Linked DNA regions of Homo sapiens: all the other regions are linked to region 4. Evidence: fine-mapped expression QTL. A gene starts in region 4. Each other region holds a variant in brackets. All regions are shown on one strand. Distances are from middle to middle.

Region 1 (8,109 bases), 20 kb after region 4:
ACTTTTTGTCCCACTTACAACAGCGCTAAGAGGGAAAGTTTCGTTCATTCTCAGATTAAGTTATAGGTAAGTGGATTACACCAGAGCACATATTGCCAAAAACCTGTCATCCTGCTCAACATTTCTACCTCTAAAAAAGTAGCAATCAAGTTCTATTTATTCTGAGGATCAGTTATATTCTATATTCATGTGTATAATGGCAGGGATTTAAAAATAATCTGGGTAAATTTGAACTGCAAATAGCATGTAAATATCACTGACCCGTAATAGTCTTAGTTCTTCTCTACAAGGGTATATGGTCAGCCCTTATTGGGAGTAAAAACACCTCGGCACATTAGTGAGGCTTCCTTGACCCCACAGAGTCTCTCAGCAATTTCATCCCAATTCCCTGGATCCAGGTAAGTAACAGACATGAATGAAACAGGCTAGTGCAAAATAGAAAGGGGTGGTGGCAAACTGTGTTAAACCAAAGAGGAATCAATTAAAAAAAAAATACAGTGTGTCCCAAAACACGCATTTGAGTTGGGAGCAGTGATTGATCCAACATTTATAGAGAACCCTGCAGAGTCCCTGACATTGTGGGAAGAATAGAAGTAGAATGAGCCCAGAAAACCCGTGTTTTTATTTTAGATTTCTTTAAATACGTGAGAATACAATGGCATATAATGCAATATTTTCCCTTCTCAAAAATATATCTAGAAAGAAAGAGATGGGGAAATGCACAGCAGCCGTTGGTGGAGGTTGACCCTGGAAGCTAATTCTAGAATAACTTAAAAATGTAAGTTGTTCAGGTTTCCCTTTTATAGCTGTTCTGAGTAGCACAGAAACTCAATTTTGCTTGGTAGAAGGTCCTTGCCTTGCTTCTTAGATTCCACAGTCATTTCTTAGGCTAGCTTTACTATCATTTGATTCAGCCAAAGATGATGTCTTATAGAAATGTTCAATAAAGGCCTCATTCCTAAGCAGATTCTACTTGTTCAAGTTTATGAGTTACAACTACCTGAAGTCTCAGAATCATAGCAGTAATGAGCATAAAGGCAGTGGAGACCCTGTGATAAGTTTTACTGAAATGAGAAAGATAAAATCTTCTCTTAGTTTAGAATATGAATATTTCTGGTATTTGATACTGTTATTGTCTGGGCCAAGTGGATAAAACAGCGTTTCATTTCTGATCTTGTAGGAAATTGTTTTATGTAATGAGTACATACATGGGTAGAGCTATATTGGTAAAGGCAGTGCCTACTATGCTGAATTAAATATTCCATGCAAGGGTACCAGGAAAAGGGGAGGGACTTTATAGTTGCTAACACTGAAAAAAGATTTGTTGCATCAGATGAACCTTTAAACTTAAGAAACGTTTACCAACTCAATATTTATTTGATCTAAATAGTCAGTATGTAATGGTGTGATACACCCGGTACTTTTCCAAAGTCATCAATAATGAGGACATAGCTTGTGGTTTTTAATTTTTTAGTCCCTGTGAATTTATTTGATTGCCTTTGATTGCCACATCTTTTTCTTTTTTTTTTTTTTTAAGATGGAGTCTTGCCCTGTCTCCAGACTGGAGTGCAGTGTCGCAATCTCGGCTCACTGCAACCTCCACCTCCCAGGTTCAAGCGATTCTCCTGCCTCAGCCTCCTGAGTAGCTGGGATTACAGGCACATGCCACCACACCCAGCTAATTTTTGTATTTTTAGTAGAGATGGGGTTTCACCATGTTGGCCAGGATGGTTTTGATCTCCTGACCTCGTGATCTGCCTGCCTGACCTCCCATACTGCTGGGATTACAGGCGTGAGCCACTGTGCCCTGCCTGATTGCCATTTTTCTGAAGGATGGGGATGTTGAGTGGGGTGGCGGGTTTTTGGCAATGTGTGCTTTGCTGTAATGTACCTACCCATATCTGACTATTGGTTTATACAGTACAGAGAACCATGGGCTAAGCCTTACTTTTCAGCCACAAAATAAAAATCCTATCATTAAATCTTAGAATCTGAGTTGGCAGATAACCTTGTCTAATACCCTTCTAACTAAAACTGTTCCACAAAATTCCTCAATCAACTGTCCTCTGTTTTAAGTAATGACAGACATCTGATAGCTTTAGTGGTGGCAGCTTCTTATGGGTAGGAACACTTTTTATTAGGGAGATTTGCATTTTATTGGATCAATGCCTTACTCTTTTTATATGATATCCTTTATTAGTAGTTCTGTCTTCTGAAGTAAATACATAGGATCATTGCCTTCCTACATCTTGCCATTCATGTATTTAAAGAAAGTTATCATCTCTTTTCTATGTCTTTTTCCCTAAGAATGAAAAGAAACTAAATATAGCAATAATACCTATTCGTGATTCTAAAACTTTTTGCTATTTGTCAGACACTTTGCTTGTCCACTTACTCCTTACGATAGTTCTATAACTGTTTTATTTTATTTATTTAATTAATTAATTAATTAATTTTTTTTTTGAGATGGAATCTCGCTCTGTCGCCCAGGCTGGAGTGCAGTGGCAAGATCTCGGCTCACTGCAACCTCCGCCTTCCAGTCTCAAGCGATTATCCTGCCTCAGCCTCCCAAGTAGCTGGGATTACAGGTGCACCACCACACCCGGCTAATTTTTGTACTTTTAGCAGAGACAGGGTTTTGCCATGTTGGCCAGGCTGTTGTCAAGCTCCTGACCTCAGGTGATGCACCCACCTTGGCCACCCAAAGAGCTGGGATGACAGGCGTGAGCCACCGCACCTGGCCTATGTGTTGTCTGTTTTAAAGATGAGAAGACCGAGATGCCAGTGACTTGTCCAAAGACACATGGGTGGTAACTCGTAGAGATTATTAGCTAGCTCAGGGCTTCTTCCCTCTTTGGGCCACAGCTGTACCCTTGCTTATTGTACCTGAACACCTGCAGTTTCTTTCATTGCTCTTTAAGTGATGACATGGTCTCCCAGACCCCTCACCCCATCCAGTTGACTCTTCACTGAACTTAACTGGTCAGCACTTAAGAAAAAGATGGTTTAAGCATTCAAGAAAAACATGGATGCCAAGTATCCATTGATTCAGGAAATATTTGAGTATCTGCCATGTGCCAAGCACTCTAGGTATTTGGGATAAACCAGTGAACAGAGCAGTCAAACAAATCCCTGTCTTCATGCATGGTACACTGAGGGTTCATGTTGTGGCTTAGTCCCTGTCCCCACAATCAACACTGAAGAGGACTTTGAAATAGGGGACAGAAAAGTTGCAGAAGCAGGCTTGTGCTGTTAAGGCATTAAGGTGGGAATTCTATACGAAAAGTTCAAATGATGTATTAAATATGGATCCAATATCTCTGCTCACTCCCCCTTTGCATCACTTTAAACACACATTCCTTGCATGGATTAAGAAAATAATGTTGACTTTAACTGACTTATACTCATTTATTTCTAGGCACAAAATGAGACCAAACAAAAACTTGGCAATAGAAGGAAGAGGTTCCTGATATTATCAGAGGTCATTCGAAATAAAATCCAGGCAAAATGAAACCACAAAAGATGTGATTTGTAGGGCCAGAAGACTTTGCTTGTTCTGAAATGTGTTTTGAATTCAAGAATATGAAGAGAATCAAGAATATTAGAGATTGAGAAGCCCAGAGATGGGTTAGAAATGAACTGGATAAATTGTAAAATGCACACAAGTGTACTAGAAAATGTTACATGTTTTGGTGAAGGCCGTGAAAATCTTCAGCTGCTTATTGTAGGTAACCTTCTTCTATTAAATCATGGGAGATTTTTCTAGCTTAGAGGTATAAGTTTTAATGTGTGTTGGAATTTTTAATACAGACTTAAGTCCTGATGCTTATCTAGTATCTTTCTTTGTTCTTAAACATTGATTTTCCCGTATTGCTTAC[C/A]TTTAATAACTATTACATTTTCAGTTTTAAGGCAGTAATAGTTCATGAATTTGAAAAGTTAAAATCTATTGGAGATGAAGTTTTACAATTCTGAAGTCTTTCAAATATATTTTTGGTAACATCTTGATGACCTTCAAATTTTCTTTCATCAGCGGAGTGTTAGGGGGCTGCCGAGAGCCTGGGAACTGCTAGCATTCTGTTTCTCACTGCTTCTGGGTTATGCAGCATGGAAGAGAGGGCATGGAGTTTGGAGCCACACAGACCTTAGGTTCAAATCCAGCTCTGTGACTTTGAAAAGTTTCTTAACATCTCTGAGCCTTAGTTTCATCATGCAAAGATAGGACATTTCTCCTGAGGTGGTTGTGAGGGTTAAATAAAGTAAGTCAAGAGCCCAAGACATAATAGGAAAGCAATGAATCGTCTCTATTATTAATTTTTATTTTTATATATCAAAGTCTGGGGTACAGTGGCCTTGCTTAAAAATGGAATCCCCTTTCCTTTGAATTACTTTTTCTCCCCATATGATAGTCTCAAATATTTATTCATTTTTCTTTTCTTTCTTTTTTTTTTTTGCACAACATCCAAAAGTAAAGGAAACAATATTCTGCAACTCCATCGATTCTGAGTTTCTCTTCAGTGTGCTATATTAAGCTAGATGATGTCATCATCAGCTAACATTGGCTTTTCACCAAGCCGTGGTGACAAGTTTCTTTCCTTAAGGCATATTCTGGAATAGTGTTTCATCTCAGTTTAGAATGTGTACTTCATAACTGGACTATTTATTGGTAGGAGCTGCCTGTGCTTCACTTTCTGGGATGTGGCAGTTAACACTTTGCTCATCAGAGCACTCTCCTTCCTCAGCCTAGTGTTCATCATGGGAAATTCTGAGCTCTGGAAAAATGTAAACTTCGTGTTTGTCTCTTTAGATGGTGCAAACTAATCAGAAACTTCAGTGGCCACAACAAAACAAAACCATTAGCAAAAGACAAACAAAGAAGCTTTATTTTTTAATTGCAAAGCTTCATTACATTGCTTCTGAAATGCTAATCATTATATTATATTCATTTATGGAGAGTCAGACAGACTTGATTTTGTCTGACATTGTCCTGACATTGATCTGTACTAGCATCTTAGTCTGCTTGAGCTGTCATAGTAAAATACCATAGACTGGGGGCTTAAACAACAGACATTTATTTTTCATACTTCTGGAGGCTAGGAGTTGAGATTATGGTGCCAGCATGGTTGAGCTCTGGGGAGGGCTCTTTTCCTGGCCTGCAGACGGCAGCCTTCTCCCTGTGTCCTCAGTTGGTAGAGAGAGAACACCAGCTCTTCCTCTTTTTATAAGGACACTAATTCCATCATGGGTGCCCCACCCACATGATCTCATCTAGCCCTAATTACCTTCTAAAGGCCCTACCTCCAAATACTATCACATTGCAGGTCAGAACTTCATAGGAATTTTGGGGGAACACAAATATTTTGTTTGTAACAAGCAGCTAGTACTTAACCTCTTTAAGCATTGGTTTTCTCACCTATAAACTAGAGATAATAAAAGCACTTACCTCATAGGGTTGATAGGTAATTCAGTTAGGTTTATATATGTAATACACTTAGCCTAGTTCCTAAAACATAGTACGTGCTTGATAAATGTTAGCTCTCAGTAGTAGCAGCAGAAGTAAGTTATAGTGATGGTAGTATATTTTAGGAGCATGTCTCATTCCAGGAACTTATCAGAACTCTTCTGAAATTATAAATTGATGATTGAATTCTTTTTAAGCAACAGTGATGAGAATCTCTATCTTCGTCCATATTTCTGTCGCCATTTTCTCTTCCTAGGCTAATTGTGAGCTTCCTGTATCTGAATCCTGTTCCCTTTGGCCCTGTCCCTCCGGGTCAGCCTTCACTGAGGCTGTGGAGTATTGGGTTCTTTTCACTATGACCTTGCCATATAGTTAGGTGCTTGTTTCTCATTGCCTGTGGCTCCCTAGTCTTTGCTTCAAACCCTTCACACTTTTTCTCTAACTTTTCTCCATGCCATATCATCATCTCCTTTGTTTACTTCAGGGTCACTTACCTAAAGAGGATGAAAGTTTCTTTGGGGCTTCTGAATAAAGGTGGCCAGGTTCCTAAATATTCACATTCATCTTGCCAAGCAGACTTCTGATTGCCTAAAATATTCTTTATGATGTCTCCTCCATAAAACCTTCTAGAGTGATCCAAGGAGAGCACCCTGCTTCTTCTTCTGTGAACCCTGGGAATGGATTCATTTTTGTTGTCTACCAGTAGACCATCTGATTGATTGAAACATCTTATTCCCCAACAATGACTTGGGAAAAGAAGAGTTTTCTGTGAGAAAGAATTAGTGATGATCAGAGTGAAACATATATGTTAAAGCTATATTATAGTTAGTTTTGAATGCTGTTTGGTACTGATTGTAGAATTTGGGGCATTTTGAGATTTCAATAAGTGATAAAAGCATCTTAAATCTTGAAACATAGGTTATGTGTAACCAATTGCAAACATGTTTTAGGAAAGAATTATTAAAGGGAGAAACTTTTTTATTGTGACATATGTTCCAACTATATTTTAAGACAGTTATCTGAAGCATAGGGGTTCATGAGAATATTTGTGTATGTGGTGTATGTGTATATATACATAAAATGCACACACACGCACACATCCTTTTATAAAAAATATCATGGCTGGGTGCAGTGGCTCATGCCTGTAATCTCAGCACTTTGGGAGGCCGAGGTGGGCGGATCACCCGAGGTTGGGAATTTGAGACCAGCCTGGCCAGCATGGTGAAACCGCATTTCTACTAAAAATACAAAAATTAGCCGAGTGTGGTGGCACACGTCTGTAATCCCAGCCACTTGGGAGATTGAGGCACGAGAATTGCTTGAACCTGGGAGGTGAAGGTTGCAGTGAGCCGAGATGACACCACTGCACTCCAGCCTGGGCAACAGAGTGAGACTCTGTCTTTAAAAAAAAAAAAAAAAAAAAAAAAAAAAAGGAGTACTTTTCCAAACAGAAATTTACTTTCATTACAAAAAAGTTTCAAGGAGGAGATGGGAGATGAGAAGGACCTTGAGAGGAATAAAAGGGTATCTGTAAGTAGAGATGAGCTTAAGCAGAGGATATTTTTAAATAGAGCAGCATGTTTATTTTGTACTCCAGTATTGATTTGTGACCACACAATACTGAAGAAAAAAGATATTTAAGTGTCTTAAAAGCAAATCAGTTCTGTTAATTGCTTTAAAGTTATTTAGATTTTTAACCTACAGCTAAGATACATGTTACGGAAATGACCTTATATAAGCCTGTTTCAGGCTTAGTATTTTTTAGATGAGATTTCCTTTAGAAAGAAAACACATAGTACCATAATGATAGTTACTCTTGCTGATTTGTTGGTATTATTGATTAGGCTAATATATGTAAGGTAACTACATTTTCTTCTACTATTTTTTTTGGTAGTCCTTGAGCCATTTTAGGATACTTGCTTTCTAAAAAGAATACATTTAAAATATGAAATTGTATATTTTGATAGAGGGAGGTCAAATAAATGTTTATATTTCAACAAAATGAAGGGAAATACTTGTAGAGCTTAGGCAATGCTTGGTATACTTTGTGTTTTCCCCACAGACAAAAAACCTCGTAAATGGCCTATGTTGGTTCTTCGGAATTGGTGGCAAGAGGACAGAGTGTAGGATTGTAAGAATTTACGTCAGATGAATTTGGCAGGATTCTGATATTTCCTTGATACTTAATTCTAGGCACACTGTCTGTCTCATTAATTTCTGTAAACGTCTTGGTTAAGGAATTACACTGAGGGAGTTCTGATGTTTCATTCACACTCATCCCTGTCTGCCATCCATCAAGTGCTTCTGGAATTCCATCCTGGATCAGACCACCCAGTGAAGACAGCCGTGGCAGGAGCCAGTAGCCCCAGAGACAGGGACTCTTCACAGGGAGACGTGGCGCTGGGCTGTGGCCTCTTTTCAGCTTTCTGGCAGCAAGCCTCTCATTAGCATGGGGTGCTGCGGTATGCTTGGCCAAGGAGGAAATCTCAAGAGCCGAAGCCTTGAAAACCCAGGTCTTGTGTCCGTGCCCAGAATTATGCATTGCTAGCATACAGCCAGCTGCAAAAGGAAGAAATCAAACCCAAATGTGGAAGCAAGTTTCTTCATGCCCTTGTTTCCCTGTTTAAAGTTTTCTGTCAAGCCACTTCCAC
Region 2 (8,109 bases), 42 kb after region 4:
GGCGGAGGTGGCAGTGAGCCGAGATCATGCCACTGCACTCCAGCCTGGGTGAAAGAGGGACACTCCATCTCAAAACAAAAATTTTTTTTACATTTTTTAACAAAAGATAGCCCACTAACATTGAAGTCTTAAGTGTTGTAGAGACTTCTCTGATTCAGGAAGCTTAAAAAACCTTCTCCAGTATGGTAAAATATTCCCGGTGCTTCCCTCGATATCCTTTCCTCCATTACATGAATTATCGCTCTGCCGCTAGCTTACTTCCATAATTCCTTGGCACAAAAAAAAAAAAAAAAGTTTTAAATGTTTTTAGTAAGTACTGTAGAGCCCTTGGTATTCCTGGGGCCCTGACTAGCTCTTACATGCTCCTCATTCCAACAGTGGGCATTGGGAGAAATGATGTTACCGATAATCCAGATTGGTTGTATGTATGTCTAAAAAGAAAAGATATTCTGGCCGGGTGCAGTGGTTCACGCCTGTAACCTCAGCACTTTGGGAGACCAAGGAAGGAAGATCACTTGAGGTCAGGAGTTCGAAACCAGCCTGGCCAACATGGGGAAAACCTGTCTCTACCAAAAATACAAAAAAGAAAATAGCTGGATGTGGTGGCGGGTGCCTGTAACTACTTGGGAGGCTGAGGCAGGAGGATCACTTGAACCCGAGAGGCGGAGGTTGCAGTGAGCCAAGATTGCACCACTGCACTCCAGCCTGCCACAAAACAAACAAACGAACAAACAATTCTACCTTATGTCAAGCTATTTTTTTCAAGGAGAGAGTATATACGTCTGTGGGTAAAGGGCAGAACTAATGCAGGCTAAACACTTTAAGTACGGTATTGGAAAGTGAACAAATTAGAGTTATTCTATCACGGAAACCTCCTTTTGGAAAGAAGAGGAATTCCCAGGAAATGTAGCAGAAATGGCTGAAGGTAGCAGATTGGAAGAGTTGACAGTGGGAGTAGAGTGGGGTGAAGCAGGCCCGCTCAGTACCATCTTGACCTTCGCCATTAGCTTCTGGTTTCAAGGAACAGAGACCACTCTAAATAGCTGAAGTGCACAGGAGGTGTGTCCAAACCATGTCGGGGAATCTTGCACACCCAGCGTTAGAAGCGCAGCAAGGCCTGGGGGGACAGAAAAGCTCCCCAGGCTCCTCTTGCCCTGCCTCCCTGCTGGGGCAGCTGCCTTTCACAAGACTGTCCTCCTCTGAATGAACACTGTATGGCTTCTTTTATTTATTTAGTTATTTTCAGATGGAGTCTCGCTCTGTTGCCCAGGCTGGAGTGCAGTGGCACGATCTTGGCTCACCGCAACCTCTGCCTCCTGAGTTCAAGCAATTCTCCTGCCTTAGCCTCCCGAGTAGCTGGGATTACAGGCACGTAACACCATGCCTGGCTAATTTTTGTATTTTTAGTAGAGATGGGGTTTCACCACGTTGGTCAGGCTGGTCTCAAAACTCCTGACCTCAAGTGCTCCTCAAGCCTCCCAAAGTGCTGGGATTACAGGCATGAGCCACCGTGCCCAGCCCACCCTGTGTGGCTTCTACTGCCAGCCTGTGGGTTTCTGCACCTTGTCAAGCTGGTCCCCAGTGTGTGTGACTTCAGCCTGCACTAGACCATTTGACCGACCTAATCATTTTGTTCGTAAGAGCTTCAAGAACATCTAATTGAGCATTCCCAGCCTTTGACTGTTTAACCCTGAGTCAGATGTCTCTCTGGTCCAGTGATCCTTGGCTTCGGGGTATGAAGACAGTGCTGTGGGGAGGGCAGGAGGCAGTGGCGGGATCCCAGGTAAGGTAAAAAATTCTGGAAGGGGCCATTCCTCATGTTTGCAAAGGCACATATAAGGTGACAGGTCCTAGCAGCTTGGGGAGAGGGAACAGGTTGTACCCACTGGCAGTCAGAGTGACATACTAGCCAAAGATTGCTGGAGACCTACGGGCATGGGCATCTGCCTGGTGCCCAAGCCTGACACCCAGCTCTGGTTGGGAACGCAGTGTGCTGACTGGGCAGGGACTCCGGTTACCAAGGTGCTGAGGGCTTTGCTTTCTTCATTTCAAGTTTTGCTTCTTCTGTTCCCCAAGCCTAAACACAAAAGTTGGATGCTTCATTTAATTTTTTTTTCTGCATCTCTTTGAGCTAACTAGGTATGCCTTATTCCCACTGTGATGTTGCCTTCACTAAAGTGAAATGGAGTCACATGTTTGGAAGCAGCAGCTGTCTTTACAGACTTCCCAGAATTCTCTATCAGCCCTTTATTTGTTGAATGTCTTTGGGAAAAATGCTTGCCTATGTCTGGATTCTATATCAGAAAATTTGAAATACTATGTTTTTAGTCTAACTTCCTGGCAGTACTGATTTGGTATAAAATGGGAGAAAATATCAATGGTTTTATTACAGTGCTTGTAACTTTGTAGTGGCCTCAGTTGTGTTTTTTGTTTTTACCTATGTCTACACTTGCACGAACTTCTCTGGAGAAAACTCTGGAGGAAGAAATTATTCAGAAGACTTGATTTGGAGAAAAGATAAGTTTTGGACCCAGTAAAAGTGAAGTGAATATGGAAGAGTGTTCTGTGTTTTTCCAGAAAGATTCAGGCTTAAGTACTGAATGCCAAGTTTTGTGGTTTCTGTTTTTGCTAATCAAGGCTGAACAGTTACCACATGTGATAGTCTTTTATCCTACATTATACTTTTGATGAATTTGTAAAGAAATTAATCTCTCAAAACTTAGCAAAAAGAATAAAAGTCAATAAATCCATGGTATCATGGCTATATCTTTTTCCTCTTTACTAAATTATTTAACCCACGTTATAATTTGAAAATTTATCTTGGAACTTTAACATTGTAGAAACGTTGGGTTTGGACATTGCAAAATAAAAAAGATCTAGGGCAAAAACAGTATGGTAAAGATCCCTACTTATCTATACGATTTAATTACTTTTTTTTCCATCAGTCCCAAAACAGAAAGAGCAGATGTCTCACCACGAAACTAGCAACTGGAATGAAGATAGAAACAAGTGGTTATAACTCAGACAAACTAATTTGTCGAGGGTTTATTGGAACACCTGCCCCACCGGTTTGCGACAGCAAGTTTCTCCTGTAAGATTTATTGTCAGGGCCTGGGATACTGATATAGAAGATTAAGTTTGAAATGTCAACCTTTACTTAGGGGAGGAAGGGAAAGATTCATTTCTAAGTGACTCAATGCAACTTCAAACTTTTGAACTAAAGTGAAAATCCAGGATCAACTTGTGACTATGATTAGCAGATTTGGAAAGATTTCCTGGAATCGTTGAAAGGAAGTTTGCTCCGTCAATGTCATCAGGGTTAGGGATTTACTAGACCTAAAATTCTATACTGTCAAGTTGATGGCCTGGGCTGAAGAAGTTTTAGAAGGAGGTAATTCCAAGTTGCTGAGGAAGGAATTTAGCTTTTTGGCAAGAATTAATAGGGACTTATCAAGGAATAAGGTGCGTAGAAATGGTTATACTTAAGTTTGGGGCACAATGGGCGTGGGGCTAAGAAAGATCTCACATGTATCATTAGGCTCATGAAAATCATTCAGAGACTTTTCTGCAGCACAGCATATTGCTAGTTCCTTCCAGCCCTCCCTTCGCTAATTCTATTTTCAGATCTAAGCTAATATGCACATATTTATCTTCCTCAAGAGACGCCACTGTCTCAGCAATTAATAAAATAATTGCTTATTGAAGAAAGATATCTGTTTCTGGTATTGCCAGAATCACTTGTGACCTCATAGGGATGTTGATCAGAGCCTTATATTCTAAGGCCAAGGACAGGGGTGTGAGTTTTGTATGGGCCACTTCCCAAAATCTGCATCATTGTTCTTATACTACATGCGTGTAGGTTTCGTATTAAATATGAGTCCTTGGTCACAGTAGCAATAACTGACAATGGTTACAATGGTGCAGATCATCTGCTCCTGGAAAAACAAAGTCTATGCCCTCCAGATTAATGGAATCACCTCCAAAACCCCTGCATTGTATCTCTGCATTCGTATTTGTTGTATAAGTAGGAGGGATGTTTTTCTTGGGCAGTAAGTCCCCTGTAAAAATGAGAGTAAGATGGTCATAACCATTTCATATGGGGAGCTTATCTTTTTAAAAATGTTAAAGTTATAAAAACTTCAAAGATATGTACATATCAAATTATATCACTAATATTAGACACAAATTTTTTTTCTCATTCTCTTGTTGCCACACTCCTTTCATATATCAGTGTGTCTCGACAAAAGCATATTTTACAAAAGTACGAGATACACTTTCTTCATCTGCTAAGCACTGCATGATACACCTGCTAGGACTCAATAAATGTTTGTTTAAAAATGACTCATTAAATTGACCCAATATGTTTTTTCCTTACTTTTCTCCCATCTCATTATAGTCCTACAAAATTAGTTCTGCATTGTGGCTTTTGCAATCCGTATTTTACCAGGCTGTGCGTAGTTGAGATTGTTTGCAAAGGGCAT[C/T]GAGTAACCTGCCAGTTCTGAGAAGTTTCTGACGTATGTTTTTCTAATTACTCAAAAGCAAATGAATGCTTGACAAATGGGATCTTTGTCTTTTTTCCCCAGAGTAACATGGAGAACCTGACTACCCATAAAATACTTTTCATCTTTAATGGGAAAGAAGTAATTTGCCTACACAGACCTCCCCCCAACCCCTCCAAAAAAGAAAAAAAAATAGGACAGAAGCAGTAGAAATCATATCTTATGTGATTAAAGCTGTGCATTTCTATAAGCAGTCCTGCTTCCTGTGTAATCTGGAGTGAATTAAATTCAATTTCGTATTGAAGAGATGACCATCACTAATTTATTCATTTTGGGTAGCTTAATAATAAAAGCTTTTACTGTTTTAACGTTTTCACAGGAGGTTTGTTTATTGGTCGACTTGCTTATTCTTTTATTTTTATGCTGTTTTTTCTTTAGAAATTTCACAAATAACATCATAATCACAGTACCAGGAAAAAAGGATTTAAAAAAAGTTTACCCACAATCCTATTAGCCCCCGAATCTGTCCTTTGTTTTCCTTGCTTCCTTCCAGATCCTTTCTCTTTAAATATGCAATAGTCGTAGAATTTATATCTTTTTCTCATAAAAGTCAAGGTTAATTAAGTACTCCACCATGGGCATGTTTTATTTGGTTAAATGACAAATGGGTATGTTTATCAGTTGTGTTCCCGGAGTTGTATATGACATGTCTCATTTTCAAGTGATCTTAAATCGTTAATGAACTTCAGTGGGTCTTTGTTTCTGAGCACTTTTCAGTTGGCAGTGGTTCCTACTCCTTGATCTTTGTACATCTCTGTATAAAAATGCTTAAATATTACAGAAGCTCAGCATTTAGTAACTACCTTTCCCATCCCTCCTGGCCCCCTCAGTTGGTTTTTATATAACTTTTTGCTTCTCAATTCTTTTTAAGCAGAACACTTATCTTCTAGATATATGAGAAAGGGCTATTTAAGGGTTAGCCAGTGGTAGAAATTGATAAACATTTGATTTATGGAAGCATTGATAGGTTTTGACGTTGAAAACCTGAATATGGGCAAAACTGGAGATGTCAACGTCTTTGCAGATTTTCCCATAAGCATTTGTGAAGTGCCATGCTTTGGCACTCTGTCAGGTTGGCACAGAAGATACTGAAGATGTGTGAAAGTTTGTTTTTATCATCAAGGAACGTGTCCTCTATTTTTTATTTCTCCTTAGGCTTTTCTTCATATTCTTTGACTTACCTGCTTTCACTATTGGAAGCTTGTATTTATATTTATATTGATGTGTGGATAATGTTCCTCAGTTATTTTCTCATCTGTTGACTTATATGTTTTGGTAGACAATCCCATGTACAGCTCTTTCATTTTTGATATTTCTTTTGCATATAAGTTGTACATATTCATTGGAGACAAATTAGAAATAGGTATTAGCAATGTAACATATGAAATACAGAGAAGAACCCACCATCTAAATATAATTACTGTTGATATTTTGAATGTTTTGCTTTAAGTCTTTTTACTGTAATATATGCCTATGTATTTTTTCTTAACTAATATTCACACCTTGTTTTATAACCTGATTTTTTTTCAGTGTTAGATTGTTTAGGCTTGCAGGAGGTGGGGAGTGTGACTTTTTGTCTACTTTATTCATTCCATTTTTAAAAGAACATAGAATAATATTTGGCATGGACTTTGGACTTATTTATCTAGAAATCTCAAATATAATAAGCATGTGTATTTTAGTACAAATTCATACTTAAAGCATAGTTGAATAGCACTTTTAGATTTCAGCAGGCCTTGAGAGGTGATTTTTTAAAAATTCTAAAAAGTTCACATCTGCTTCACATTCATTGTTTAAAATGAAAACAGAGAAGCTCACACATGCTTGATAAAGCTGTAGAATACGTAATGATTAAGTTTTTACGTGCTTTTAGATGATAGCTAAGTCCTGTAAGGCTAGAGACCCCATCTATGTAAGAGATCATTCTACACATATTCCCAGCACAATTCCTGGTATTTAGTAAGGCCTGAAAAATCTGGGCCAGGCATGGTGGTTCATGCGTGTAATCCCAGCACTTTGGGAGGCCAAGGAGGTAGGACTGCGTGAGCCCATGAATTCAAGACCAGCATGGGCAACATAGTGAGACCCTGTCTCTACGAAAAATAAAGAAGTTACCCGAGCGTGGTGGCACATGCCTGTGGTCCCAGCTACTCAGTAGACTAAGGCGAGAGGATTGATTGAGCCCAGGAAGTTGAGGCTTCAGTGAGCTATGATCACGCCACTGTGCTGCAGCCTGGGTGACAGAGTGAGACCCTGTCTCAAAAAAAAAAGAAAAAGAACCTGAGTTAAATGGATGGTTGAAGTAAAGAGAGACAGAACCCAAAAGATGAGGCAATTCACTCCTTTCCTTGTAGTGAGAATGAAATTAGCCATCTCTTGAAATATATTTCTATCAACATATCCTTAGGAAATTTTTAGCTTGGACATGGTGGCTCACACCTGTAACCCCGAGGTTGAGCTACTCCGGAGGCTGAGGTGGGAGGATTGTTTGAGCCCAGGAGGTTGAGGCTGCAGTGAGCCAAGATTGTGCCACTGCCCTCCAGCCTGGGCGACAGAGTGAGATCCTGTTTCCAAACAAAAACAGAAACACAAAATTATAATATGCAAACAAGAATGGCAAATCTTTTTAATCACCCAAGGCTGCTATATTCCTTTGCTTGCCACATAAGCCATTTATTGCAGTCTCTTATAAGGGGACGTGTATGCTACAGGAAATTGAACTACAGGAAATTCGAGGCTCTGGTTATTAAACCTTCCTTCTGACTGCTCTGGGTCACTGCATCTCTTCTAACAAGTGAAACACACACACACACACACACACACACAAACACACACACACACATACTCTAATTGTGCCTGGAAGCTAGGTTACCAAAGGGAGGGATGACAATTCCAGATCAGCTTCTAACCTCCTCCCTTCTGCTCAGGTCGCCTTCGTCAGACGTCAGAATGATTCCTTGCAGAGCCGCGCTGACCTTTGCCCGATGTCTGATCCGGAGAAAAATCGTGACCCTGGACAGTCTAGAAGACACCAAATTATGCCGCTGCTTATCCACCATGGACCTCATTGCCCTGGGCGTTGGAAGCACCCTTGGGGCCGGGGTTTATGTCCTCGCTGGGGAGGTGGCCAAGGCAGACTCGGGCCCCAGCATCGTGGTGTCCTTCCTCATTGCTGCCCTGGCTTCAGTGATGGCTGGCCTCTGCTATGCCGAATTTGGGGCCCGTGTTCCCAAGACGGGGTCTGCATATTTGTACACCTACGTGACTGTCGGAGAGCTGTGGGCCTTCATCACTGGCTGGAATCTCATTTTATCGTATGTGATAGGTATGTTTCAAAAAGAAATCTAACTTGTGTGGAATGGAAGAAATCGCAGCCCTGAGTCACAGCCCTTAGGTTCAGTTGTAGGTGTTGGGTACATCACTTGATGTCTGTGTGTCTCATTTTTGTCATCTCGAAAATGTCTCCTTCTAATTACAAAATTCTGTGGGTTTTTTTTAAGACAGTCTCACTCTGTCGCCCAGGCTTGAAGTGCAGTGGCGTGATCTCAGC
Region 3 (8,109 bases), 120 kb before region 4:
ATAATGTGTTGCTTCCTTTCCAATATTTATCTTTTTTCCTTGTATAATAGCATTAATTAGAAACTTCAGAGTAACTATAAATAGCATGGAGACTACAGTCACTCTTGCATTGTTTTTCCTTTGTTGAATGACAGCTCTGTTGAGATATAACTCATATACCATACGGTTCACCCATTTAAATGTACTATTCAATGGTTTTTAGCACATTCACAACACTGTATACACTGCCACTGTGCAAACATTAACGCACTATTTTAAAACATTTTCATCACCGCAAAAAGAAATCCTGCACCCACTACCAGTCACATCCCAGTTATTCCCCCAACCACTCCGGCCCTAAAAAAATCAATTTACCCTCTGTCTCTATAGATTTGCCTATTCTGAACATTTTGTATAAACAGAATCATACAACATGTCATACTTTGATAGTGGTTTCTTTCACTTAGCAATCATGTTCTCAATCTACGTTTCAATCCAAGTTCATCTATTCATAGAATGTACCAGTGCTTTACTTTTTGTTGCCCCATGATATACCATTATAGGGACATATCATATTTCATTTACCAATTCATCAGTTGATAGACATTTCAGTTGCATCTACCTTTTGACTACCAGGAATAATGCTGCTATGTACTTTTGAGCATAAGTTTTTGTATGGACATATGCTTTCATTTATCTTGGCTATACTTAGGAGCAGAATTGCTGGGTCATTTGGTAAGTCATATAGTAAGGCTTTTGAAGAGCTTCTGGACTATTTTCCAAAGCAGCTGTGCCATTTAATATTCCTACCACCAATATACAAGGGTTCCAACTTCTCCACATCCTTGATAACACTTATTATAATCTCTTTTTTTGATTATAGTCATCCTAATATGCGATCTCATTGTGGTTTTGATTTGCACTTCCCTGATAGCTAACAATATTGAGCATCTCTTTATGTGCACCCATTTTTAATGGAACACTTATTATCTTTTACCATTGAGTTTCATGCTGATATTTATTATCGCATCGTGAAAGTGACCTAATCCTAGTTTACTAAGAGTTTTGATTTTTTAAAATCAGAAGTGAAAGTTATGCCTTTTTGATATGTATTTGGATAAATATTTGTTTTTTTAACTCTAGCCCTAAATTATCAATAATAGTAATAGATTTCCTAATCTTTAAAGGAGTCTTGTGTTCCTGCTATATGGCCAACTTGAAATCACGACTACGTAATTCATACACAGTCATTATATATTGATATTTTAATTCCTTGTATTTTTCCCGCCATAATTGTTATTTTGATTTGTTTTTTTTCTTTTGCATCTATACTTTTAAGAGAGAACCTCCATGCCCTAGCCTATTCATGCTGCTGTTATCAAGTGAATTAACCATGGTTATGATTACATCAATTAATCAGGAAGCTTTCAACATACAAAGTATTTATTAGTTGAAACAAGTATAGTACTTCTTTACACAGAAATCTTTAGTAATGGTTTCAACTTCTTATGTGGTTACAGATCCGTTCACTGTTTCCAATTTTTACTAAATCCCATTTTAATATTATAATACCTTTACAAATTATCTTACTGCAGATTTTCAAATTTTTACAATCTTTTAATTCTTATCTGTGGGTAAACCCCTCTCTTCTTATCCCTTCCCTCATTCCTAATACTGTGAATTGTTTTCTTTTTACCTCTTTGTGATTAGACAGGCAAAGGTTTTTCTTTAAAGTAACAGGTGTTGGATATATCAACTTTATTTTTCTTTTCTACTTTGTTAATTTCTGGTTCCTTAATAAATGTTTTAACTTGCTTTGCTTGGGCATGCCATGTGGTTTTTGTCTGTCTGTTTCTAAATTTTCAGATTTCACAGTCAGTTTGTTAACTGTCATTCTTTTTGTTTAATAACAAAAGTTTTTAAATTCAATCATTTTCCTCCAAGTATATCTCAGGTTTTATCCTGTGAATATTATTCATAGTATCCTCATTCTTCTTTCTAGATGGTCTATAATTGCACTTTTTATTTCTTCTTTGACCTGAAAGTTTTTAAGGGAAGCATTTTCCAAATTCTCATATGGTTGGGATATTTTACTTAAACTTTTGTCATTAAACATTCTATTTTAAAGTAACTACGATAAAGATATTATGAAAGTATGGGAGGAGAAAAATAAGGGGATAGAAACTTTATTGAGATAATCATATTGAGCATAAGATAATACTTTGAGGCAAAAATATTTGATATGGATTATTCTCCCTACAGAAGTAGAGGAAGCTGTATCACTTAAATTATTTTTAGAAAAGCTCAGTGGAGCAGAATAAGGTATGCAGATGTTGAGAGATTAGAATACTACCATTGAGATGGGATTTTTCCATGTCTTTTTGTTAACTTTGGATGCTGCTGCAGGAAAGTCACATTCCAAAATTTGGCAATAGTTCCTACAGGTCCCAGAGCTGTCAAAAGTAATTTTGAAGATACAGAGAGGGAAAAAAGAAATAAGGAGGGGAACACCAACAGTATGATTTCCCAGAGATACTAACAATTAAAAATGAATTATAAAAATTAAAATTCAGTTGTCTTAGAAACGTTATGAAGTCAGAAAGCACTGTTCAGGGACCACCTCACAGTTTATACTAAGACGTTGAAAACGATCTAAAATGAAATAAATTTCAGAGTTTGGGCACCATCTTGAAGACCCACTGACTCAGTAATTCAGCCTTACTGTTGGGCTAACTTAATTCTGTCTCATCTATACATATATGCTGTACATACTACAAAGTAATAAGGCCAGTTTTATACTTAGGGAGAGCTAAGACTAAGGAAACAACCAGCTTCTCAAAACAAAATTGTTGCAACTCATTTGCCTGCTCCCAGGAGCACTATGCTTAAGACATACGAGGTATTCATACTCTGAAAAAGGCTATGGAAATCTATGCAAAAGATATTACACTATATTATTAATTCTTGGATGTACATTTTTTACATTCTGGTATTTCTAAAAATGGGACACATCTGATGACTGATGTGTAAAAAGCTATTGTGTCATTTCATTGGCAGTGCTTCTTTCTTCTTTTGTGGTTCATAAAATCTTGCTGCCTCTTAGCATCACTGATGTCTTAGATTTGTTGAAATGTGATAAATTTAGTCTTTAGCACATAAAAGATAATAATTGAAGCCATGGGACTAAAAAAGGTTACCCAGGGCGAGCAGGCAGAGTGAGAAGAGATCTGAGGAAAGCCCAATGTTTAAAGGTCTACATGAAGAAGAGGAATCAGAAAAGCACAGAAACAAAGAAATGGACAGGCAGGAGGACAATCAGGAGATTCTGCTATCAAGAGGATAGCAGAGATAATATTTTAAGAGAGAGGGAGTGTCTATGTCAAATGCTGCTGAGATGGAGTAAGGCAAGAACTGTAAGTGGCCCACTACATTCAGGAACATGGGGGCACTGGTGGTCTTAGCAGGAGGGGTCCTGGAAGCATGAGGATCATAACCCATGAAAGAGCAGCTTGAGGTGTCAACTCCCAGGCACTGAGAAAGTAGATACCACTCTTTGCCAAAGTGGGGTTTGAGCGGGCAGAAGCAGATAGTCTGACCACGCGAACTCCACCCCGGAGCAGCAAGAGCCACGTTAGCTTTTCAGAAGCAACTGGCACGTCAAGACATTTGAAGGAAAGATGCCTGTTAGTGCTACCAACCGGGGCATCTGCACTTGTGATACACACGGGAAATAAAATGACTCCATTAGGCCGGATTGAGAAATACATTTTAAAGGATTAGAAGGAGATGGGGATCGCTGAGCAAAGATTTGTTTATCCTGCTTGTATTGCTTCTCCAATCCTAACAAACTTTCGCCCCCAGCTTTTAGAACTTGCCTTTTTAAAACTAGGAAACATGTACTTATTTACTTAATGTTTAAAGATTTGGAAATATAACAGGAAGAGAAGAAAATCACCCCTAGGACCATAATCCAACACAAGCACTGTTAGTCTTTTGGGAAAAATGCCTATACCTCATGTTAAGTGTTTTTGGGGTTTTTTGATTGTTTGTTTTTGTTTTTGTTTTTTTAATTAGGTAGTGAAGCACCACAGGAAATAATCTCCAGGGATGGAGTGAACAAATCTAATCTAAACTGTCTGAAGGCACCGTTTCATTGCAGTATCAACCCTTCCTTTGCCAAAATCTTCAGAACAGTTGGCTATATACCATAACGCACTG[A/C]GGGTTTGGAGGAGGGGAGAGTAATTAAGGAAGAGCTAGGTAATTAAGGAAGAGCTGTGCCACAAGACAATGACACATAAACGGATGGTGAGTCGATCTGCAACGTGAACTAATTCAGCAGCAAATGATTATGCCAGAAGGGACTGTGAAAATGCAAACCTCCATGGGAACTGGCAGAAATTCTGTGGAAAGCTTTGGACTTCTGAAGGTAAGAGAACTGGGGCATTTCAAAGAACTCCACCAATATCTCATGAATCAGGCCAACCCCAGTTGTCAGTTTGTTTATGAAAAATCACCAAATAACAATAAAAACAATAACAAATATTTTTTGATATTCGACATCCATGCACTGCACAATCACTCTATATACCTGAGCTCAAGTTAATCCCCACAGTAACCCCCTGAATTATAGGTTCTTGCATAATCCCCATTTCATAGTTCTGTTGAACTTGAGACTTGACAAACTTTCCCAGATCCTGCAGGGAACAGGTGGCGTGGCCCGGCCAGCATGGGTCTCCAACCTTTCGGCTTCCCTGAGCCACACTGGAAGAAGACGAACTGTATTGGGCCATACCACACACGTAAAATACACTAACAACAGCTGATGAGCTTAAAAAAAAAAAAAGGACCATGCATAATTTTCATGATATCCACCACCACAGACAGGCAAAAACATCCTCAAATTCAAAGGGCAGGACACCCGTGCTAGAGCTAAGGTCTGTCTAACTTCAAAGCCACGTTCATCCTTCACCATGGCTGTGGTGAGCACTTGTAAATGCCTTTGAGGTCATTGTAGAATTGTTATTCAAAATTAATATGTTTAGCATAGACAGTTAATAATTATTGTAAGAAATCTTATACATGAAATTAGTACTTGAAAATAGAATGCTTTAAGACAAAATTATACTGTAAAACTATATTCACAAACCACTATCACAATATTATTCTTTTAGATAAACCCAAAAACAAAAAGCTTGGCAATGGATACAAGAGCCCAAAGATTGACACTAGCAGACTTCGGGTATTCTCAGAACTAATGAAAGAGACAGAACACTAAACATCTAATTCCATTCAAAAAGATGCCTATGTGTGGCACTGTGTCAGGTTCCGCAAAAAAAAGCAAAAGGGTGAACAAGGTAGCATCTTTGTCTATCTTCAAGAATCTTATAGATTCAATGGAAAAGACTATGCCCCAGTTTAATGGCTTTTTTGAATTCCTGTTCTTCCTCTGTTGGGGTTAGACTGAGGGGAAAAAAGGGTTTCATCATCTTTTCTAGGCCAAGGCTGAAAACGCTCAGTCAAAACCCTGGGCCCCACCACCGCACTTCCAGGTCTGAGGAGGCCACACTGGCGGCCCAACATAGGTCCTCCTTGGCCTTCCCTTCACTGCCTGGGCGTCAGGAAGACCTCATAAATCACCGAGAGTCAGAGCCTTTCTTCAGTGATCCTCTATTGTGCCACCTTCGAATTTCAATCTTAGTAGAATGTGGGTCTTTCTATCCTGCAGGTCAAATATTGAAGTGCTGAACATTCAGGGTTCCAGAATCATCTCAGACTATTTGGGTAAGTAAAGTTGCTCCGTAGGATGAGGAATCCAAAGTGCAGGGCCGGGGTGCCAGTCATTGAAAAGGACAGAAAGCAGTGGCACTGGCTACCGGCTTTTCTCAGGCCAAAGACCAAGTCCTCAAAACCATATAAATCAGGCTCCAGATCACTGTCAGTCATCTGGGGGAAGAGATCCAGGGACTGTTTAACAGAGAGAAATCAAAATCTCTGCAGCAGCCAAAACCAAAGACAAGTTTATGTTCTAATCTAAGAAAAGCAGCTAGATAAATAGTTTGTTGTGCTAAAATTGGTATCATGACATTTTCTAACTCTACCAACATGAAAAGAAAAGTATTTGTGAGTCAAGAGGCCTGGGCTCTGGTTCTGGTTCTGAAATTGAACTGCTGGGAGCAGGCAGTTTAGACATTATCCCTGCATTTTGACTTCTATAAGGGATCTAAAGGGTCTTTAATGTCTCTCTCCTTTCTAGCAGACTGCAGCTGTGACCCAGTGGTACTTCATAGACTACCTACGAGGATACAAAATGGCAACAGTGAAAATGCATACAATAATGACTCAATATTAAATTTTCTGGAAATTAAGTCACTCGGTAACCTGGATGGCCAACACGACTTTTGTGACTTACTGAGGAAAGGAAGCATCAGCCACAGCAGCAATGATGCTCTAACAGCCTCTGAAGCTGGCCCAGAGGCTGCACTGATATCCAGTGTTCTGGTCCCAAAGGACTGTGATAAGCATCCCAAGGCCGAGGGCACCAAGCCCACCAGCCTGGAGGAACAAGCTGCCCAGCCACAGTGGCTCTTTTTCATTTTCCAGATTCCTTCCCCATCTCGAGCTCTTCTTCTTTTTTGCTTCTCTTGGGGAGTTAGGAAATCACTGGCTAGAAACCCTAGAGCACTTGGTAACATTTCCTGAGTTATTTCTGTCTCTCATAATTAAGTATCATTTGGATTTAAAACTGAATTGATGAAGCGTCTTGCTGTACTCAAAAATAAAGACTTTCATTTGACTTTATTTTAAAATCTATTTAGCACATCCATCCGTCCATCCATCTTCTTTTCTTTTTGCAATCTTTAATGTTGATATTCACGCTACACGGCATGCAGAACAATCTTAGTGTCTCAAATGAAATACCCACCCCTTGGTCAGAAAGTGCCTGAGTGATAAGGAGACCTTGTGCAGAAACAAAATTTGAGACCACTACAGTAATGAGAAGCTAAAAATTCAGACAGAGTCCTTTTTTTCTCAATGTTCTTCCACTGTGAGTAGAAATGTTATATGAGCCACAAAATGTGCAGGTGTCAAGCACAAAAATGAACATTAATATTGCACTTTAAAATACACAACAGTTAATGTAGTTCTATTACATTGTGCAGTAATTAGCACAGTGATTAGGAGAATGCAGTGAGGGTGCAGGGCATTGGCTGTAAGAAGCACTCACAGGGCACCAAACTGTCAGGACAGAATGTCTTGAGAGCGGCTGGTGTTCCTCCGAGATATGGGGGGGCCGGGATCCCAGGGCCTGTTGGCAGCTCAGATAAGACACATCCACCACCTGGGGGGTGTGGAAGGTCCCAGGGAAGGGAGCCGCTCTTAGATACCAAGGTTGGGAGGATGGTTCTGGGCATCAGTTTTACCTTTAAACAGTGCCCACCCTCTCAGTCCCTACTTAACTAAGTGCTGATGCCAAATCCAGGCAATCCAGGATGAATTTTTCAGAAAAGCTTATGGCAAAGGAGGCAGCGTAACTGTGGTGCGTTCCTTTTAACCCTTCCCTCAAGCAGAGGGAGCAAGAGGAGGAAGGGTAATAACAACAACGAAAATACTTTTACCACTGACCACACAACTACTGCGCATCAGATACTGTGCTAGGTATTATCCACATGCTACTTCTAACCTTAGCTGAGACAAAGACATGAAGAGCATGAAAAATCAATCAACTGCCCAAGCCTCGCATCTAGAAAGTGGCAGAGCCAGATTTCAAACCAGAAGTGTCCACTTCCCTGGATCTCTCCCATACCTGACCACTTCAGTCTGGGTCTAATATTGCAAATGAAGGAAAAACATCCTGGCTCAACAGTCTCTCCTCCATCGTCCCTGAGATTTCAGTTAGAGAGGAATATGTTTAACAAGTTAAATGCTCTAGCTACAGCTAAAAGATTTGGTATCTGGTACAGACCAGCTTGGCTGGCCATGTGACCTCCCTGCTTGCTCATTTCTCTTGTCTGGAGGGGCAAATCCCCGAAAGACTCGGTTCTCCCGGTGGTCGAGGGATTCTCTGGGCGGAGCTCTGAAGTGTGCACCAGCATGTTTCAAATCGAAAGGTTCAAAGGCCTCCTGCAGCTT
Region 4 (8,109 bases):
CGGTGGCCTGAAAGCTCTTAAAACTAGTGCTCTGGGTCGGGGCGGTGGCTCACGCCTTTAATCCCAGCACTTTGGGAGGTCGAGGTGGGCGGGATCACCTGACGTCAGGAGTTTGAGACCAGCCTGGGCAACGTGGTAAAACCCCGTCTCTACTGAAAATACAAAAAAATTAGCCAGGCGTGGTGGTGAGCGCCTGTAATCTCAGCTACTCCGGAGGCTGAGGCAGGAGAATCGCTTGAATCCGGGAGGCAGAGGTTGCTGTGATCTGAGATCGTGCCCTTGCACTCCAGCCTGGTGACAGAGGGAAACTCCGTCTCAAAAAACAAACAAATAGCTAGTGCTCTGACTCTGGTCCAACTCTTTTTCCCTTTTGAGTTGATTCAGTGACAGCACAAGCATTAGTATCCAGTATCCAACCATCTGAAAAAAATTGGAGGATTTTAGCTTGTCTTCGCTAAAATAGTTTGGGGAATAATAGAGTCACAAATTAGAACTAGTAAGAATCCATTCCTTCAGTCTTGCTAGTTGAAGTAAATCCCTTATTTGTGGACATGAGATTTACTTTAGGTTGTATTTGGCAAGTGTGGGAGTACAGGGTGTGGAATTTATTCAGCTACAAAAGTCCCTTAAAATTCCCCGCAATTTCATAAACCCTTAAGAGTTCAGACATGCAAGAATGTTTGTGAAATCTTTGGAAGATGACAACCTAGGCTACTCTCTCTGCTGAAAATGACTAAGTTGGATTTTCTGCTTCATTCCTAAGGAGGAAACTTGACGGCTGAAAGTGAAAAGTGATGGCAATAAACCAGGGAGCGTGAAATAGAAGGTGGGTGCAAATTTTACTCAACTGGGAAAAAGATGCTAATTCAACCCCGGGCAGCAAGAGAAAATGCAAATGAAGATGAAGTCAAAAGAGCTTAACCTGTTTCAAATATTTCATTTCTAAAAATTCGATTCTATTTTCTCTTGTCTCATAGTCTGTCTTAAGAGACTCATACTAAATCCGTGGGCATCCTATTCTTTCCTCATCTAAACACATTTTTAAAGGTGAGAAATAACCAAAGTTATGAGGCAGGATTCAGGGTTAATCAATAATTTCAAACACGAAATGGAATATGTTAAGTCAAGAACTAGTGTGTAAAGATATTCAGCAATCTTGTTAGAAAGTTGTTTGAAAGAATTTGCTCTTTTTTTGCTTAGAGATGAAGTTGTTGTTCTTATTCACACACATGAACACAGCACGTTCTTGCTTCAGGAAGTGCGCCGGCGGGCAGATTGGATAAATTCAAAGATCGGTATTCTGACAAAATTGGCAGTTTCCAAATTCCAGATAAATTTGTTTATCCCAAATCATTGTGTTGTAACTTAATCACAAATTAAACAGATTTAAACACAGAGCCTTTAAGTAAAAATATGTGGGGAAATAATTGCTTAAGTTTAAAAATAGGAATCTCTATTTTTTTATTTTTTCTTTCTTTATTTTAATCAATGTTGACCAGGTTGGCCTCGAACGTGTAGCCTCGCCTCCTCGAGTGCCAGGGCAACCGCCCTGAGCCACCGCGACTCCCAGGAATCTCTATTTTTTTTAAACCAGGTGAAAAATGTTAGACCAGATTACTCACCCTTAAAAATTAGACAAAGTATCTGAGTCATCGCTCCCTTGAACAACGCCTCCTAGCCGTGGGATTGAGGAGGAATCTGGTGTTAAAAGTCCACACGCATCATTTCCCTTAATGTTATTAATGATAATTTGCATAAGGAATCTTTTTTTGACTGTAAAAATAAGTTTACTTTGACAGTCTCTATTACTTAAGACATTTGGTCTATCAGATAATATCTTCGTAATCATAGTGCTGTTTAAACTTTCAGTTTTTTTGTTCGTTTGCTTTTGTTTTTGAGACGGAATCTCACTCTGTCGCCCAGGCTGGACTGTAGTGGCACTATCTCGGCTCACTGCAACCTCCGCCTCCTGGGCTCAAGCGATTCTCCTGCCTCAACCTCCCGAGTAGCTGGGGTTACAGGCGCCCGCCGCCGCGCCCGGCTAATTTTTGTATTTTTAGTAGAGACGGAGTTTCACCCTGTTGGCCAGACTGGTCTCGAACTCCTGACCTCAGGTGATCGGCGCGCCTCGGCGTCCCAAAGTGCTGGGATTACAGGCGTGAGCCACCACCCCCAGCCTACACTTTCACTTTTTGATGAAATCCATGGATGGCTTCCTGAGATACATTGAGATTTTGTGTGTGTGCTATCTTCTGGAATGAAGCCCCACACCGTTTATTAGATGATCTTGGGGATATATGTCTTGAAGGGAAGAATGATTTAGAATATCACATTAAAATTGTATATGTACTGTGAGGCAGCAATACAAATCTGGCACTTTGCCAAAGTTATTACTAGTAGGTGGGTTAAAGGGACGTTTACTCCAATACTATGCAAAGTAAAGTGGACCTTTCTGTCAAACAAAAATAGTAATAGGCCGGGCATGGTGGCTCAAGCCTGTAATTCTCAGCCTGGTGGCTCAAGCCTGTAGTTGTCAGCACTTTGGGAGGCTGAGGCGGGAGGATAGCTTGAGCCCAGGAGGTCGAGGCTGCAGTGAGCCACGATTGTGTCACTGCCCTCCAGCCTGGGCGACAGAGTGAGACCCTGTCTCTAAAGACAAACCACACACACATATACACACACACACTGACACACACTTATTGTTCAATTCAGTGCGTGTTTTGCTTCGTTTTGGATGAAAATTAACAGGCTTTCACATTGTGACTTAATCTTATCAGAGACTCCTAAAGTAAACAATAGCGCAGTAGGAGAAACCCTGATTGTGTAACTTCTGCTCTTGCTCCCCTGGAAATAATGTCATTTCCTATAAACCCACCCCCAAACAATCGTGACTACGTATTCATACCACTGGAGTCTTCCAAAATAGCAACTGCACATTATTTATCAACGTTTAGTTTGCATTTGACAAAGCACATCCACCTGGGCTTCCATTTATCATTGCTATTATTATATTTTATTATTATTTTCTTATTTCCAAAATCTTTGTAGAATGGAAAGTAAACGGGGGGACCAAAACCCCACTTAGAACTCTGCTTAGAAGATTCGGAAATGCCCTTGAGGTTTGGTCCTCCCAGGAGAGCACGAAGTTTATCCTCGCGCGCAGCCTCTCTTCCCCGGCCCGCGCCCACCGGCCTAGCCCGGGGCTAGCGCCCGCCCACGTGTGCTCGGCTCCAGGCAAACCCCGCTGAGCAGCGGCCGCACACCGCCCACCCCGGGGATTGGTCAGCGCGGCCGGGGCCCGGCGGGAGGCGGGCTCGGGGTCGCGTTCCGGGAGCGCGGAGGAGGCGGTGCCGCCCGGCCCCGCGCCCCGCCCCCGCCCCGGGTGGCTACACAGAGGGGCGCCCACGTGCCCAGCCCTCCTTCTGCAGCGCGGCCGGCGGGCGCTCCTCTTCGCGGGACCAGCGAGGCGGCGGCCGCTGCTCCAGCGTCCCCCAGCCGCGGGCCCCCGACGCGCTGCAGCCGGCAGCCCACCGCCGCCTTCTTGGCGCGACCCCAACCCAGCCCCAGTAAGTTGCTAGGTCTCCAGCCCCGCCGAGAGGCCGCGGGCGAGGGGCAGCCCGGACGCTGGGGCCGGCGGGGAAGGAGCGGGGCGAGGGCGCCCTGGGGCCGGCGGGGAACTAGAGGGTCGAGGGCTCCCGGGGACGAGTCCAGCTGCGCGCAGCTGCCCTGAGGCCGCGCTCCAGCGAGTCTTCGTCAGGGAGTCGGGGCCGTGGGCTGGGGCTGAAGCCGTGGACCTTCGTCCTCGGGGCTGCGCCCCGGAATGCGCCTCGCCTCGTCCGGTCCCTGTGCAGCCGGCTCTGCCCGGGGACTTCGGGGACCGCTGGAACTGGGAGAGGGGCTGGCACGGCGACTTCGCGGGGACCCTTCAGTCACTATTTCCAGAGGAGCTCGGCGCACCCCTCTCCGGGTGGGCAGGCTGAACCTCCTGGCCCTGCACGCTGCCGGGGTCCCCGAAGCCGCCTTCGCTCCTTTTCGGTTCTTGGCTTAAATTAGAAAGCCGGCTTGGAGCGCTGGAAGCCCCTTCACATTCTGCAGGGGACCTGGTAAAATAGCCCGTCTTGGTGTTTGTATTGGGTATTTTAAAGTAACTGGGTGCCTTTTAAAATCCGTTTGAGATGGGCTGTATTTTATAAGCCCGTTTCATGAAACGCTGTTCTTGAGGCTTAGAGAATCTCCCAACCCATCACCCCAGAGTACCTGTCCGTTCAGAAAGTACCTTTTCATCCTCTTTTGACGCTTACATCCAGTCTATGGAGTAAGGTATTGAGAGATTGTCATCTTCAACTCGTCGAAAAGAAATATGCTCAGCAAAAGCCACAATCATATGTGGCTTTTGAAGTGGATATAGTGCCTGGATTTCAAGAGAAAAAGTACTCAGCCTCTTCAGAGTTGTAAATATTTGTGCAAAACTGGCTAAAGCCTTTAGGTGACTAATTTTGGACCAGTAATAAGATTTATCTAGACGTTTGTGCAGAAACACTAATCCTTTTAATGAGAGGATATCGTCAGATCTTATTCAAATAAGAGCTCTCTGAATCCCATCCAGGGCCGCCTGGGTTATAAAATTAGAATGTATGTGGCCTTGACTTGATACTTTTTCATTCTTGCCTGAGCTAGTCTTTAAAAGTTAATAATTATCTCCTCCGGAAGGTGAAACATTCTGTGTTTGTAATCTTTCTCTAGGAGATGTATAAGATGTGAATATTCTGTATTATGTACCTTGTTAGGATTGCTTTGTAATTAGTAAATCCTTTTTTATTTTAATTGCACTGAAGCGTGACATGAAATGATCTCTCAGTGCAGAACACAGGACTTCTTCCCTCTCCTTTTCCTACAAAGTTGCTAGTTGCCTGCTCTGGGAGGCCACTTTATTGTGATTTTTCAAGTTTCTTCCCTCGGCCCACACTTTGTTTACATTCTGTGCCTTCATCTGGGAATGGTCATTTACCTTAAGGCATTTTAATCTTTTAGGGTGTGCCATGGCCTTGGAGACCAGAGTAAAGCGCTGTGGTATCTGCGGGGATCAGTTTGCAGAATCCTTGGCCTCCTAAGCAGTGGGCATAGCTCTTTTCATTCCAGAATCTCTGATCATTCCAGAGTCTCTCCTGTCACTGGGCTTAGGAGCCTGGGAAGGCGAATAGAAGCTAGCTGGGGAGACAGGGGAGCTGTGGCAGTTTAAAAAGCCTGATCTTGCGCTGGAGTTTTTCATCTTGCATTCTCATGTATCTTTGCCTTTTGAACACATGTGCCTGAAGAATTTTAAAGTTCACGTTTCTTGCTTTGCACTGCAAGCACACTCACCTTTGCAGAGTGGAAGTGCCTTGTCCCCATTCTAGGTGGTCTACCTTCTGTTCTCTTTTCAGACCTCCTGGCTTAAGCCCTTGTTTCTCCTGGCTGTTATGGCCAGACCCGGAGTCCCCGTTGTGCCCATTTCTTCTCTTTTCAGTCCTTCCTTTTCAAATGTTTTTTCCCAGAAGTCCTCTGGCAACTTCTCTATTTCACCTAGCCTCTGTCTTCTCTTGTTTTATTTTTCCCTCTCTCCCTCCCTCTCTATCCCTCTTTCCCCCTCTTTCCCTCCTTCTCCCTCCTTTCTCTCTTCCTCTCTCTCTGTCTCTCTCTCTCTCTCCCCCTCTCTCCCTCATTTCTCTCTCCCTCTCTCTGTCCCTCTTCCCTCCATTCTCTCTCCCCCCTTCTCTCTCTGTGTGTTCAGAGCCATCTGCTGGTTTTACTTTGGTGCCCTTTGGTGGACAACTTTCAGAACAGAATCTTGGGAGCACCTTCATGTTGCTGTTTGCTTTATTTCCCCCAAACATGTAGATATGAACACACTGATTTTAAAGACTCTTATAGACTACCTACTAGATGCCAAACATTTAGAACAAAAGCAAAAGCTTTCAGTGGAATATATTTCTAAATACTCACATATTTAGTTTTGGGTGCATCATTTGAATGCTTTGTCATCCAAATGAATCCTGAAAAACTTAGTTAACTAAGATTTCACTTAAGTGATAGCACTTGTCTAAATGGGCTTGAAAATCGAAGCTGTTAATTAATTTCTAAAACTTTAATCTGGATATTAAAAACCATATAGATACAACCTTGAATGACAACAGAAAACTAATGGAATTGTTCTTGTCATTGTCTTCCATTTTAATAACTTTTCATTTTAGTACCTAATATAGTATGTGTCACATAACACATGCTTATATGTCTTTATTGTTGAGTGAATGCCACTGATTTCAACAGTTTGAGAAAAGATGTTTTATCTGTCTTCAAATGTATTTATTCCTTCATTGAAAACTTACTTTCTACTCTGTACACTGGAAAATCAAAAAAGTAATGTGTAACTCCGGTTTTAGAGGGATTCTATAATTATGTTTACATTTGGGGAACTCCATTGATGGATTTTAAGAGCAGTTTTTTATTTTGCTGTACTCTATTAAAAAATACCACCACTTCTAAGCAGACGATTTCAGACCTGTCTGTGCCGCAAAGCAAGTAATTTACATGCTCTCTCTAATACATGAAGGCGATGCTACTATTTCATCATCAAAATCACATGTGCTGGACATTTTTATTTTACTAGTAGTAACAAATTTGTCCGCATTCCTCTTATATTTCCCTTTTACTTGACTTTCTAGCTCTTGTTTTAGAAGTGGTGTTTGTGGTTATGGAAATGTTGTGGATGATATTGACAAAACGCAGCCAAATCGGGCAGATCACTTGAGGCCAGAAGTTCAAGACCAGCCTGGCCAACATGGTGAAACCCCGTCTCTACTAAAAATATAAAAATTGGGTTAATAGGTGCAGCAAACCACCATGGCACATGTATACCTATGTAACAAACCTGTGTGTTCTGCCCATGTATCCCAGAACTTAAAGTAAAATAAAAAATAAAAATACAAAAATTAGCCAGGTTTGGTGGCAGGTGCCTGTAATCCCAGCTGCTTGGGAAGCTGAGGCAGGAGAATTGCTTGAATCTGGGAGGTGGAGGTTTCGGTGAGCCGAGATCGTGCCACTGCACTCCAGCCTGGGTGACTGAGCGAGACTCTGTCTCAACACACACATACACACACACACACACACACACACACACACACACACACACACACAGAATCCCAGCCAAGTAGGAGTTCATTTCCATCAGGCTTCAATTAGTTAAGGTAATCACAGCATGAATCACCTATTAATTTTTCTTGTCCATCTTAGTAATGGAAACTGTTATATATCAGTCTATGGAAGCAAGCAGTATGCTGTTGCTTTTCACATTCTTATCGACTTTTTTTTTTTTTTCTGTTTTGAGACAGAGTCTCGTTCTGACGCCCAGGCTAGAGTGCAGTGGTGCGACCTTGGCTCACTGCAACTTTCACCTCGTGGGTTCAAGCAGTTCTCATGCCTCAGCCTCCCGAGTAGCTGGGATTACAGGCGTGTGCCACCATGTTCGGCTACTTTTTGTAATTTTAGTATAGATGGGGTTTCACCATGTTGCCCAGGTTGGTCTCGAAATCCTGGCCTCAAGTGATCCGCCTGCCTCGGCTTTCCAAAGTCCTGGGATTACAGGCCTGAGCCACTGTGCTCGGCCTCTTATGGACTCTTAAAGTTTAAATATTTCTGAGAAAGGCCTCTGCTGCTGTTACGCTGACCTCACTGGTAAGTATAATTAGTATTGACTTGAGAGAAGATTTGAGTTAATAAGGCTATTTTAGAGGCTGGATTTGAATATGTGGGTCACGTCTCTTATTTAGACTTTTAGTATTATTTAGACTTTTATTTAGACTTTTAGTATGAATCTCTCTCTTCAGAGACATGTGGTCCCCTGTTATTCTGGGTGTGTATGGATGTGATGTGTTGTGGAAAATCTTGAAATTTCTTGATACGGGACTTTATACACCCAAGACTGAATCATGAAGCTGGAGCATTCTAGTGCTGCAAATGTCATGAATTTAATTTTTCACCGTATCCCCATCCTCCTGCAAAACATAAAATATAAAATATGTAAAATGAGATAAAAAAATGAAAGCAATACCCACACACCCATTCTGGCACTGC

Which allele goes with the higher level. Positions count from the first base shown, and alleles are read on the strand shown. Sizes are in standard deviations (SD) of each study's normalised expression. Not every link is listed here.
For the expression in atrial appendage of the gene that starts at base 3,417 in region 4, C is the low allele of the variant in region 1 and A is the other (small effect, 0.29 SD a copy in GTEx).
With allele A in place of C in region 3, the expression in tibial nerve of the gene that starts at base 3,417 in region 4 is higher (small effect, 0.27 SD a copy in GTEx).

The links. PIP is the estimated chance that this variant, and not a neighbour inherited with it, causes the effect.
Region 1: its variant is fine-mapped to the expression of SLC7A2 in atrial appendage (GTEx, PIP 0.99).
Region 2: its variant is fine-mapped to the expression of SLC7A2 in lung (TOPMed, PIP above 0.99).
Region 3: its variant is fine-mapped to the expression of SLC7A2 in tibial nerve (GTEx, PIP above 0.99).

Annotation. Positions count from the first base shown.
Region 1 is chr8:17,513,781-17,521,889 of GRCh38, forward strand. All of the region lies in intron 2 of SLC7A2 (solute carrier family 7 member 2), which reads left to right. Among named protein-coding and RNA genes, the nearest start is that of SLC7A2, 21 kb to the left of the region's middle. The variant C/A (reference allele first, on the strand shown) is at 3,879.
Region 2 is chr8:17,535,832-17,543,940 of GRCh38, forward strand. It overlaps SLC7A2 (solute carrier family 7 member 2), which reads left to right. Exons shown (of 13, transcript NM_001370338.1): 3 at 7,487-7,884. The coding sequence starts at 7,509. Among named protein-coding and RNA genes, the nearest start is that of PDGFRL, 37 kb to the right of the region's middle. RefSeq lists enhancers at 1,347-1,848, 1,849-2,348. The variant C/T (reference allele first, on the strand shown) is at 4,482.
Region 3 is chr8:17,375,764-17,383,872 of GRCh38, forward strand. The region is part of intron 1 of MTMR7 (myotubularin related protein 7); the gene reads right to left. LOC102724838 (a long non-coding RNA gene) reads left to right here. Exons shown (of 4, transcript XR_428318.4): 2 at 4,054-4,405; 3 at 5,705-5,760; 4 at 6,233-6,396. Among named protein-coding and RNA genes, the nearest start is that of MTMR7, 34 kb to the right of the region's middle. The variant A/C (reference allele first, on the strand shown) is at 4,198.
Region 4 is chr8:17,493,672-17,501,780 of GRCh38, forward strand. SLC7A2 (solute carrier family 7 member 2) reads left to right here and starts at 3,417. Exons shown (of 13, transcript NM_001370338.1): 1 at 3,417-3,566.